3 linked regions of the Homo sapiens genome follow. The gene in region 1 interacts genetically with each later gene. Each region holds a gene or a part of one and is shown in the gene's direction. Other genes may lie near its edges.

Evidence for each region.
Region 2: changes in CDK12 (region 1) and KSR1 together harm fitness more than expected from each alone (negative genetic interaction), as found in Homo sapiens cells (one large-scale study listed by BioGRID).
Region 3: changes in CDK12 (region 1) and LIAS together harm fitness less than expected from each alone (positive genetic interaction), as found in Homo sapiens cells (one large-scale study listed by BioGRID).

The regions. Positions count from the first base shown.
Region 1 is NC_000017.11:39,513,424-39,517,073, forward strand, and holds part of CDK12 (cyclin-dependent kinase 12), read left to right. Parts: intron 1-2,307; coding exon 2,308-2,385; intron 2,386-3,650. UniProt on the Homo sapiens protein: Cyclin-dependent kinase that phosphorylates the C-terminal domain (CTD) of the large subunit of RNA polymerase II (POLR2A), thereby acting as a key regulator of transcription elongation.
Region 2 is NC_000017.11:27,602,891-27,606,540, forward strand, and holds part of KSR1 (kinase suppressor of Ras 1), read left to right. Parts: intron 1-943; coding exon 944-998; intron 999-1,789; coding exon 1,790-1,838; intron 1,839-2,543; coding exon 2,544-2,923; intron 2,924-3,650.
Region 3 is NC_000004.12:39,476,041-39,480,141, forward strand, and holds the end of LIAS (lipoyl synthase, mitochondrial isoform 1 precursor), read left to right. Parts: intron 1-1,022; coding exon 1,023-1,075; 3' UTR 1,076-3,466; downstream 3,467-4,101. UniProt on the Homo sapiens protein: Catalyzes the radical-mediated insertion of two sulfur atoms into the C-6 and C-8 positions of the octanoyl moiety bound to the lipoyl domains of lipoate-dependent enzymes, thereby converting the octanoylated domains into lipoylated derivatives.

The DNA.
Region 1 (3,650 bases):
AATAAAATAAAGCTTTAGTTAAATTTTACTGACTCAAGCTGGGTGTGTTTTTGTTCTGGACAATTTGCTTTAACAGTATTAGCATTTAAATTGTCACAACTAGGCTCTAAAGTTAACGCCCCATTAAGATGCACGAGGAAAGTTCATAGCTCTGTTCGGTACTATTATTTCAGTCTGTGCAGCCTGCCACCTCAGAGCAGTAGCAAAGTGTTGATTACATAATGAAGATGTCTTCCCACCAAAGGACTGGAAACCAAAAGAAAAGAAAACAGAAAAACACAATTGGAAATTAAAACTACATAAAGTTAGACATTCTTCAAAGCCCAGTGGCTCATTGAATTAAGATTTTGTTTGAGTTTTGATGTGAACTTACTACTTTGGTGATTCATGGTAGTCTCTCTGAAGATATTTTTATGGGATTTTTTATAGAGAATTGGTATGACAGTTCAGTGTGCAAATTAGAATCGAGGAGAAACTAGAAAGACTAGTACAGCAAATTATGTCAGGAGTCTGAAAACCTAGTGGTTTTTTTTTCTTCTTTTCTTTTTTAAATGTCTCTGATTTTACCCGCTGTGACGACAACATTGCACTTAGAACTTGATGTGGCAGTTAATGTTGAAAACAGAATTAAATTTTACTTTTTTTTTCTTTTTATAGAGTTGGGATCTCACTACGTTGCCCAGCCTGGTCTCAAACTCCTGGGCTCAAGCAATCTTCCCACCTCGGCCTCACCAAGTGCCAGGATTACAGGCATCAGCCACTGAGCCTGGCCTAAATTTTATTTTCACTTTTCCATCTCTGAATAGGGTTTGAGAGAATATAGGAAGTAAGAATTTGTCTTTGAAGTTGTTTTAACATAATTCGTTTAAAGGTCCAAATTCTAACAGAAAAGTGCTACTTAAAAAGCTAGGTTCGTTTTGCTTTCTCAAATTAAGTCAAACTAAAGAATTTTAAAATAAAAGTATAAATTTGGTTTTGTATTTGTCTCATTTCAAAGCATAGGTCAGACAGATTCATCGACCTTTTTTTTTCTTTCCCCACTTTAAAAAAATGAAAAATTTCAGGCACGTAACAAAAAGTATGGGATATTCATGTAATCTTTGAGATGTGGTCTTCCTATGTTGCCAGGCTGGTCTTGAACTCCTGGCTTCAAGTGATCCTCCTGCCTAGGCCTCCCAAAGTGCTGGGATCACAGACATGAGCTGCCATGCTCAGCCTTTATTTTATTTTGAAATAATTTCAATGTATGGAAAAGTTACAGGAATAGTACAGAAAACTTTAGTATAGCCTTATCAAATTCATTCAATATTTAAACCTATTTTATTGAAGTATAAAATAAACTGCATATATTTTGATATGTTTTGACATAACATATCCACCAGTAAAACCATCAACACAGCCAAGATAATGATCACCCACCACAGTTTCCTTGTGCCCTTTTGTAATCCCTTTCCTCTACCCGTACCCTCCCATTCCCAGGCAAACCACTGTTCTGCATTCTGTCACTATAATTTCTATTTCTAGAATTTTACACAAATGGAATTATATAGTATATACTCCCCCCACTCTTTTAATCAGCATAAATGATTTGAGATTTATTCATGTTAGATTCACTAGATTCTATTAAAAATACAAAAAAATTAGCCGGGTGTGGTGGTGCATGCCTGTAGTCCCAGCTACTTGGAAGGCTGAGGCAGAGAATCACTTGAACCTGGGAGGCAAAGGTTGCAGTGAGTGGAGATAGCACCACTGCACTCCAGCCTGGGTGACAGAGTGAGACTCTATCTCAAAAAATAAAAATAAAAAAAGTCCAACTGATCCTAGCTGATGACAGTAAATTATTTTATTTGAAATACAGTGCCAAGAAGGCTATAGTATAGTGCATCTTCTACAGAGCAGATTAATGACAAAAATGAATTCAAACTTTATAGAAACTAACTGCAGAGAGCATCCTTGTTTATTTATTTTTTGTTAGTATTGTTCTTTAATTTTGAGCAACCTTGTAAAATTGTCTTTAGTTATTTCCTTAATTACAATGGCATGATAGAAAAAGACTCTTGACTCCCTTTCTCTGATCATAGAGTGTCCTTAATAGGTGGCAAAAGTTTGATCTGCTGGCAAATTTAAATTCTTTATACTGTCTGTTTCACTGCAAGAAATATTTTCTCTTTGGAAACTCAGACACTGAAATTTGGGGCTATTTATCTTGGTTGCAATCCGACATATCAATAATGTAAAAATTTTTTGAGACACTTTAAATAGGCTCTAAGAATTTCTCTTCTGACCTCTCAATTTTACCTTTTCTAGATGTATTCTTGGGGAACTATTCACAAAGAAGCCTATTTTTCAAGCCAATCTGGAACTGGCTCAGCTAGAACTGATCAGGTACAGCTGTACATGTGCTCTTGAGTGCCCAGGTGTGATAGGTATTCTCATCCTCCAGTTTCTAACACTTTCTAGTCATTCTGAATGAGTTTATGTTTCTTATGTCCAAGTAAGTTTCTCTTTACTCAGTCAGGTTTACCATATATTTTGTCATAGGCTATACATATAAAGAAGTTTTATTTCACCTAATTTTTAGATCTTACTTTGCATATTTTTTATTAGCTCTTCATATAAAAGCATACCATTTTGGGGATGGCTCTTCCATTCATAGCTCAGATGAGATTAAATTTATTCAGCAAACATTTATTGAGCCTGTTATACAACAGATTACTTTTAACATTAAACTTTAGGATTCAGAGATAAAAAATAGGTCCCCGCCTTCAAAGAATTCAGAGTTTAGTAAGGTATATAGCATGTAAATAGTTATAAAATACAACCTATAATAGAAAATATGGGGAAAGCCCAGGATTGGGCTGGCATTTGGGTGGGTTTGTTTTTGTTTTGTTTTTTTCAATAAAATTAAAGGGAAGAATATAGCAGGCTAATGTTTTTTGTATTTTTTTTTTTAGACAGGGTCTCGCTCTGTCACCTAGACTGGAGTGCAGTGGTGTGATCATAGTTCACTGCAGCCTCAAACTCCTGCACTCAAGTGATCCTCCCACCTTACCCTCCTGAGTAGCTTGGACTACACCTGTAGTCCCAGCTATTTTTCGTTCATTTGTTTTGTAGAGATAGGGTCTCATTATGTTTGTTGCCTGGGCTGGAACTCCTGGGCTCAAACAGTCCTCCCACCTTGACCTCCCAAAGTGCTGGGATTACACACGTGAGCCACCACACCAGCCTAATGCAGACTTTTTTTTTTTTTTTTTTTTGAGATGGAATCTTGCTCTGTCACCCAGGCTGGAGTGCAGTGGCGTGATCTTGGCTCACTGCAAGCTCCACCTCCCAGGTTCAAGCCATTCTCCTGCCTCAGCCTCCCGAGTAGCTGGGACTACAGGTGCCCACCACCACACGCGGCTCATTTTTTTGTATTTTTAGTAGAGACGGGGTTTCACCATGTTAGCCAGGATGGTCTCGATCTCCTGACCTCATGATCCGCCCACCTCGGCCTCCCAAAGTGCTGGGATTACAGGCGTGAGCCACCGTGCCCGGCCAATGTAGACATTTTTTAAAGGTGATAAAGGTGATATTTTTGTTGTTGTTATTTGGTAAACTGTTGATTATCTCTCAAAATTTTCAGTCTTATACTCTCTTCTCATCTCACA
Region 2 (3,650 bases), about 12 Mb from region 1:
CAGCCTGTGGTTCAGATGACCTTCAAAGGCAGAAGAAAGCCCTAGAAGAAGGTCGAGGGAGGTCTTTTGGCTGAGCGGGGAGAGTCTTTGTCCACACAGGCAGGAGAGAGGCCTTTGATAGCTTCAGCCACTGCCACTTCCTGTCTCTCTTTTTGCAGAAAAGAGCGGGGAGTGAGCCGTCCATGGCGGCCCTGGGGCCACCAATCTCCCTGTAGCACTTTGGTTCCATGCTGGAGTAACCTTTGGTTCTGGTCTTCCTGGACGTGGGACTTTTAGCGCCAAAACTGGGAACACCCCAGGCTCAGGGATCAGCCCCAGCTGCCCACTCTTGGGCCCCTGATATGTGGCGTTTCTTCCTCTCCCCTGAGAGCTGCTCCACCAGTGACCCATACCTGAAGCCGAGGGCTCGGGGCCTCTGTGCTGGAAATTCCCAGCAACTGTATCAGCCACCAGGTGTCGCTAATGAGCCACCTGCATGTCCTGCCACCGGCCTTGCTGGCCAAAGTGAGGGAATCTCATTAGTTTCAAGGGTTGTTGCAAGCAGCCCCTGCTTCCAAACAGCAGCTTTAGCCAGCCTGTCCAGTAAATGAGAGCCCAGTTTGCTTTTACCACTTGCTTGGTGGGGGGCAGTTTGGCCACAGGGGCGTGGTGGTAATGAGAAGTCTCACCCTCCCCACCTGCCCAGATCCCCTGCCCAGAGCCCCTGCCCAGAGCCCCTTCCTGAGACACAGCTGTGTATGCAGAAGCAGGTGCTGTGGAGGCTGCGTCCTTGCAAAATTTATGGAAGGGCCCAGGCTGGTCCTTGTGGGAGTGTCTGGGGAACATGTGGCAGTCCACTCAGGGGAAAATCAGCCTCTCTGGGGGTGCTGGGTTTCAAGCACGGTGTCTCTTTGGGGAGAGGAAAGCAATCTCATGCTTTGTGTTTGGTTTTTGTTTCCTCCAGACATTTCAGCCTTTGCACACGCAGCCCCGCTCCCTGAAGCTGCCGACGGTACCCGGTAGGCATCCCTAGGTGGTGTCCCCTTCGCTTCTTTGGGGAATTATTAAGGCTGGATCCATATCCCTGGCCACCTCCCACTCCACCTTTCCATCTCCAGCCAGCCAGATGCAGAACTCCCTGGGCTCATTCACCCTCTGGGCAAGTGAACTCCACAGAGGGTTTTATTTGCCTCCTATCAGTGCGGTCAACATTGGGTGGGGCCGCATGTGAAACTGGAGCAGTCTTGGGACCCAGGCGGGTTGGATAGAGGGCATTTGGAGTTAGAGAAGCCTAAGAATAGCTCCTGTGCAGAGCCCTTTCTCTACCAGGCCATGCTGAGCACTTGACTCACATTCCCGCATCTCACCCTCAGCGCGGTGGTAGGTATCAAAGTAGGTGTCATTCTTAACATACAGCCAGCCCAGAGAGGTTAAGAAATTACATAAGGTCACACAGCTAGGAAGCGATAGAGCTGGTTTTCCAAGTTGAGGCCGTCAGATTCCGAGTCCTGTGGGTGTGCTCTGAGACCCTGTGTAGCAGTGTCACATCTGAAAAGGGGCTTTGGGGATCACTGCCCACCTCTCAGCCCCCACCACCCTCAAGTTAGCCTAGGGAAGGCTGAGGCTGCACAAGGGGCAGGTCTGGCCCTCAGCCTCCTGCCTATTGCCATGCTATCCACGCGGCCTTTCCCCTAGCCAGGTGTGAGTCAGAGTAAGTACCTTTGTCTCAGATCTCTCCCGGGAGTCCCCGCTAGCTGAGAGCAGAGCGGTGTTCCTCAAGGTCTCCTTGACAAACCTTGTTTACTCTTAGGCTCGATGACCAGCCGAAAGCAGATGTGTTGGAAGCTCACGAAGCGGAGGTGAGGGTGACACACACGTGTCCACAGATGGCCCCCCCTCTTTTTTCCCTTCCCCATCTCAGAATGCGCAGGGGGCTTGAGGGTGAGTGGGTTCTGGACTTTGGCAAGGGCTGTCCCAGGCACCCATTGCAGAGGTGCATGTCAGGGAAGAACGATGAGGAATGCAATGGAGCAAGCTTGTCCAAGCTCTGTCTTCCCCACACTCCCCAGGTGATTGTAGCCAGGGTCAAGAACCACTGCCTTGACCCTTGAACAAAAGTGTCAGCCAAGGCTGGATCCCTCCATTGCATTATGGCTTGGAGAATGTTAACAGACTGATTTACTCCTGCCCAGGGGAGAGTCAGAAACTCTGTGTTTAAACAAGAGTTCCAGAAGGATGGATGCAGTGAAATTCTTCTATGCCAGGGATGCTCTTGCTCTTTCCTGGACAATTAGATGTTGCTCACAGGTAGGTATTGGAGTATTAGCATGATGAAGGGCCTCAGGTCACCGGGGCCAGCCGCCACATATTGTGGATGAGGACATTGAGGTCCACTGATGCTAAGTGAGCTGCACAGCAGGCCAGTGCAGAGCTGCAACTACAACCTGGGTCCCCTGGCAGGATGCCTCTCTCCCCTGTTACCTGGCTAGGGCTCCAGGAGAAGGAAGAGACGTCGCAGAGCCCAGATCTGCTGCCCATCCCTGTTCTTCCTGCTCTCCTTTCAGGCTGAGGAGCCAGAGGCTGGCAAGTCAGAGGCAGAAGACGATGAGGACGAGGTGGACGACTTGCCGAGCTCTCGCCGGCCCTGGCGGGGCCCCATCTCTCGCAAGGCCAGCCAGACCAGCGTGTACCTGCAGGAGTGGGACATCCCCTTCGAGCAGGTAGAGCTGGGCGAGCCCATCGGGCAGGGCCGCTGGGGCCGGGTGCACCGCGGCCGCTGGCATGGCGAGGTGGCCATTCGCCTGCTGGAGATGGACGGCCACAACCAGGACCACCTGAAGCTCTTCAAGAAAGAGGTGATGAACTACCGGCAGACGCGGCATGAGAACGTGGTGCTCTTCATGGGGGCCTGCATGAACCCGCCCCACCTGGCCATTATCACCAGGTAACCAAGCCCTAGGACCTCATGCTGGATGGCCAGCTCAGCCTCCCCCTTCCCAGGGAGCCCTGTTTGTGTGGATGCCCTAGAGGGTGTGGAAGTTCTAATAGAGGCATAAAGAAGAAAACCAAAAATGGGGTATAACTTCCTAATCACATAACCGCATTGACACTAAAAAATAAATAAATATGGGCTGGTGCAGTGGCCCATGTCTGTAATCCCAACACTTTGGGAGGCCAAGGTGGAAGGATTGCTTGAGCCCAGGAGCTTGAGACCAGCCTGGGCAACATACTGAGACGCTGTCTCTACAAAAAAATTAGCTGGGCCTGGTGGCAGGTGCCTGTGCCTGTGGTCTCAGCTACTTGGGAGGCTGAGGCAGGAGGATCGCTTGAGCCCAGGAGGTCAAGGCTGCAGCGAGCCAAGATCATGCCACTGCACTCCAGCCTGGGTGACAGAGTGAGACCTTTCTAAGTTTACAGAAGATCAAATGTCCATAAAAGGTACAGAGTGAAAGCCAGTCTTCTCCCACTGCAACTGAGCGCTTCTCCCCAAAGTCAGAGACACTATAAACAGTTAACATTCCTTCTGTTAAAAGGAAGACATTTGCATATACTCACGTTTTTAAACTGTTTATTCCTTTTTGTAAAAATACAAAGGAGAGATCATGCTGGCTCACACCTTGCCTCCTGCACCCGATTGTGGGTCTGAGGTCTACTCTCTTCTAACACCTGCA
Region 3 (4,101 bases), on another chromosome or scaffold:
GCTAAAAATACATGTGAAGGATAGAACCACTATCAGCTTCTAGAATGGTTAGAGTAATGTCCTTTGAAAGGAGTTTTTCTTTTGCTAAAGAAAAATTTCTAACATAAAAGGAAGTAAATTATGAACTTTCTGATGCTTTCTAAATTACCAGGAAAAGATCAGATTCTGGTATATGATGAGCATTAGACTAAAATGATGGATTAGGGTCTGATAAAGTTGGTGCTACTCCCACGACATTTGGAGGAGGTATGGAGCAGCATGGATTACTTGGCTGGGTTATGAGCCTTGGGATTTGCAGAGATTATATGTAGATAGACTCATCACAGTTCTACTCATATGTAAGATGACAAAGAGAAGTTAATCAGACTCCTCATAAAATCAGGCCTCTAGTGCTGCACTCTACCAATAAGCATTGAGTCATGCTGTAAGAGCAATAGACTAAATGGAACACTAATGGCCTAAAAAGAGAATGTGCCCTCTAAGCTGCTAACTTATTGCGTAGGCACAACTCAGGCGGTGGGGAGAAAGCCCATTACAAATGAAGAGCTCTTGCTTCCCTAGAGGGGAATAAGCTAAAGAGATTCCATCAGATGCGTCTGCTCAGCTGCAACGAGATCTGTTTTATAAACATCAGATCCAGCCTAATAATGTAGCAAAATTGCTCTTGGAAATGAATTTTGCCAAGAGCAATACTTTGACAGTGATGAGGGATAGATAGTGCACATAAAGTAGAATTAATGTGCAGACCCATATATACAGTAGGGTCACCCTTTGTAATATTGGCTTACTAGAAAGAATAATAGTAGGAGACTCTAGTCATTATTGCTGGGGAGAAAGGCCAAAGATAATAGGGGATATTTAGGTTAGAAAAATATTGCCATTGAGGTTTGAGAAGAGAGAAGTGCCAATAAATACAAAAGTCTTCTTTAAAGGGGGAACACCAAAAATATAATTCTGAAATAGTTGTCTCACTGTTATTTACTTTAAATTGATATTAATGTGTTTTCCTTTTTCCTAAATAGGTGAATTTTTCCTGAAAAATCTAGTGGCTAAAAGAAAAACAAAAGACCTCTAAAACTTCAACAAGACCTTCAAGATCACAGAAATTTTTAAAATTTGATTCCAGTTAATAACAGAGGTGGTGCCAGAATGCCTGGACTGCAGTGGATGTGCCCCACCTCTTTGCTTAAAAAAAAAAATGTCAATAGCCAGGCATAGTGGCTCACGCCTGTAATCCCAGCACTTTAGGAGGCCAAGGCGGGTGGATCACCTGAGGTCAGGAGTTCGAGACCAGCCTGGCCAACATGGTGAAATCCTGTCTCCACTAAAAACACAAAAATTAGTCAGGCGTGGTAGTGGGTGCCTGTAATCCCAGCTACTCGGGAGGCTAAGGCAGGAGAATCACTTGAACCTGGGAGGGGGAGGTTGCAGTGAGCCAAGATCGCTCCATTGCCCTCCAGCCTGGGTGACAAGAGCAAAACTCCATCTCAAATAAATAAAAAGGAAAAAAAAGTCAATAAACTGTACAAATTTAATTACAGTAATTCATTTGGCTTTTAGTGTATCTTCTTTGTCCCAATTAAACAGTTGCTTGCTGTGATGTAATCTTAAAATATCTTTGTAAGAATTTTCTTTTAACATAATTTTAAAATGCATTAAAAACATGGCATGGTGGCTCACACCTATAATCCCAACATTTTGGGAGGCCAGGGCGGGTGGATCACTTGAACCCAGGAGTTCGAGACCAGCCTGGGCAACATGATGAGACCTTATCTCTACAAAAAATTAGCCAGACGTGGTGGCACGCACCCGTAGTCCCAGCTACTCAGGCTGAGGTGAGAGGATCACTTGAACCTGGAAAGCAGAGGTTGCAATGAGCTGAGGTGGTGCCACTGCTCTCCAGCCTGGGCGCTACAACTGCTCTCCAGACTCTGTCTTGAAAAAAAAACCCAAAAACTTCCAGAAGATTTTCCAATCCACTGTTAACATCATTACATTTCATTTATGAAAAATAAAAACTTCATTTATGTTACTGTGATGAAACAGTCAACATAGATTGAAACTCATCAGTTTAGCATTTCATTCAACTTTAGCATTCATTCAACGTAGATTGAAACTCATCAGATTAGCATTTGTCCTTGTAATATTGGAATAATTTAGAAAGGCTTAAGAGTGAATGTTGGCCAGATGTGGTGGCTCATGCCTGTAATTCCAGCACTCTGAGAGGCCGAGGTGGGCAGATCACCTGAGGTCGGGAGTTTGAGAACAGCCTGGCCAACCTGGTGAAACTCCATTGCTACTAAAAATAAAAAAATTAGCTAGGTGTGTTGGCAGGTGCCTGTAATCCCAGCTACTTGGGAGGCTGAGGCACGAGAATTACTTGAGCCTGTGAAGCAGAGATTGCAGTGAGGCGATATCGTGCCACTGCACTCCAGCCCGGGCAACAGAGTGAGACTGTCTCAAAAAAAAAGTAAATGTTGATTTTTTACATTGGTGTGACTACTTCAGAACCTGCAAAATAGTTTTATGCTGATTACATTTAGTCCCTCTGAAAACACCAAGGCCATAATGCTGCCTAAGACATGGAAATAGAACCTAGAAATATTAACCCTTATTTGTATAGTAGCTTGCTAAATCCACATGCCCTATTCCTTTCATTTCTCACATTGGTTGTATTATATGATGGTAAAGGCCTGAGAAAGGAATTTCCTTCCAAAATACTAATAACTCAGATTCATCTTTTGACTGAATCCTGCCTTTCTACTTTTTCTGCATATCTAAAAGGACACTTTTAGGTGGCCATGTTGTAAAATATGTAAAGTGGATAGCCAATTCTGTTTTGAATTCTTATAACGAGCCAGTATTATAAAAGTAATGCACATCCTTGCCAGGTGTGGTGGCTCACGCCTGTAATCCCACCACCTTGGGAGGCTGAGGCGGGTGAATCAGTTGAGCTCAGGAGTTTGAGACTAGCCTGGGCAACACAGTCAGACCCCCATCTCTACCAAAAATACAAAAAATTAGCTGGGTGTGGTGGCACATGCTTGTAATCTCAGCTATTTGGGAGGCTGAGGCAGGAGAATCACTTGAACCTGACAGGCAGAGGTTGCAGTGAGCTGAGATCACATCACTGTACTCCAGCCTGGGTGACAGAGACCGTGTCTCAAAAAAAATTTTTTTAAGTAATGCATGGGCCGGGCATGGTGGCTTAATGCCTGTAATTCCAACGTTTTGGGAGGCCGAGGCAGGTGGATCACCTGAGGTCAGGAGTTTGAGACCAGCCTGAACAACATGGTGAAACACTGTCTCTACTAAAAATTAAAAAATTAGCCAAGTGTGGTGGCGCATGTCTGTAATCCCAGCTACTCAGGAGGCTGAGACAGGAGAATCCTTGAACCTGGGAGGCAGAGGTTGCAGTGAGCTGAGATCACACCATTGCACTCCAGCCTGGACAACGAGTGAAACTCCTCAAAAAAAAAAAAAAAAAAAAGTAATGTATGTCTTTATAGATGCTAGTAAATTTTGGGATGCAAATTTAACCCTACCAACTTTCTTTTGTTTTGAGACAGTCTCACTCTGTCAGGCTAGAGTGCAGTGGCGCGATCTCAACTCACTGCAACCTCTGCCTCCTGGGTTCAAGTGATCCTCCTGCGTCAGCCTCCCAAGTAGCTGGGATTACAGGCGCACACCATCACGCCCAGCTAATTTTTGTATTTTTAGTAGAGATGGGGTTTTGCCGTGTTGGCCAGGCTGGTCTCAAACTCTAGGCCTCAAACGATCTGACCGCCTTGGCCTCCCAAAATGTTGGGATTTGTGAGCCACCACCGGGCCTAACCCTACCAACTTAAAATAGAAACATCTCAAGCTACCTTAACTTATTTTACAGGAAAAAAATGGATTACTTTTCAGGCTAATTTTGTGACATTTCTAGATATTATCTAATAGTTAGGCCCTTTGCACAGTGTAGGCCAATGGCAGGTAAACATTTGTTAGCAGGAGACTCATTTGGTGAAATAAAATTCTCAGCCGGCGCGGTGGCTCACGCCTATAATCTCAACACTTTGGGAGGCCGTTGCGGGCGGATCACCTGATATCAGGAAT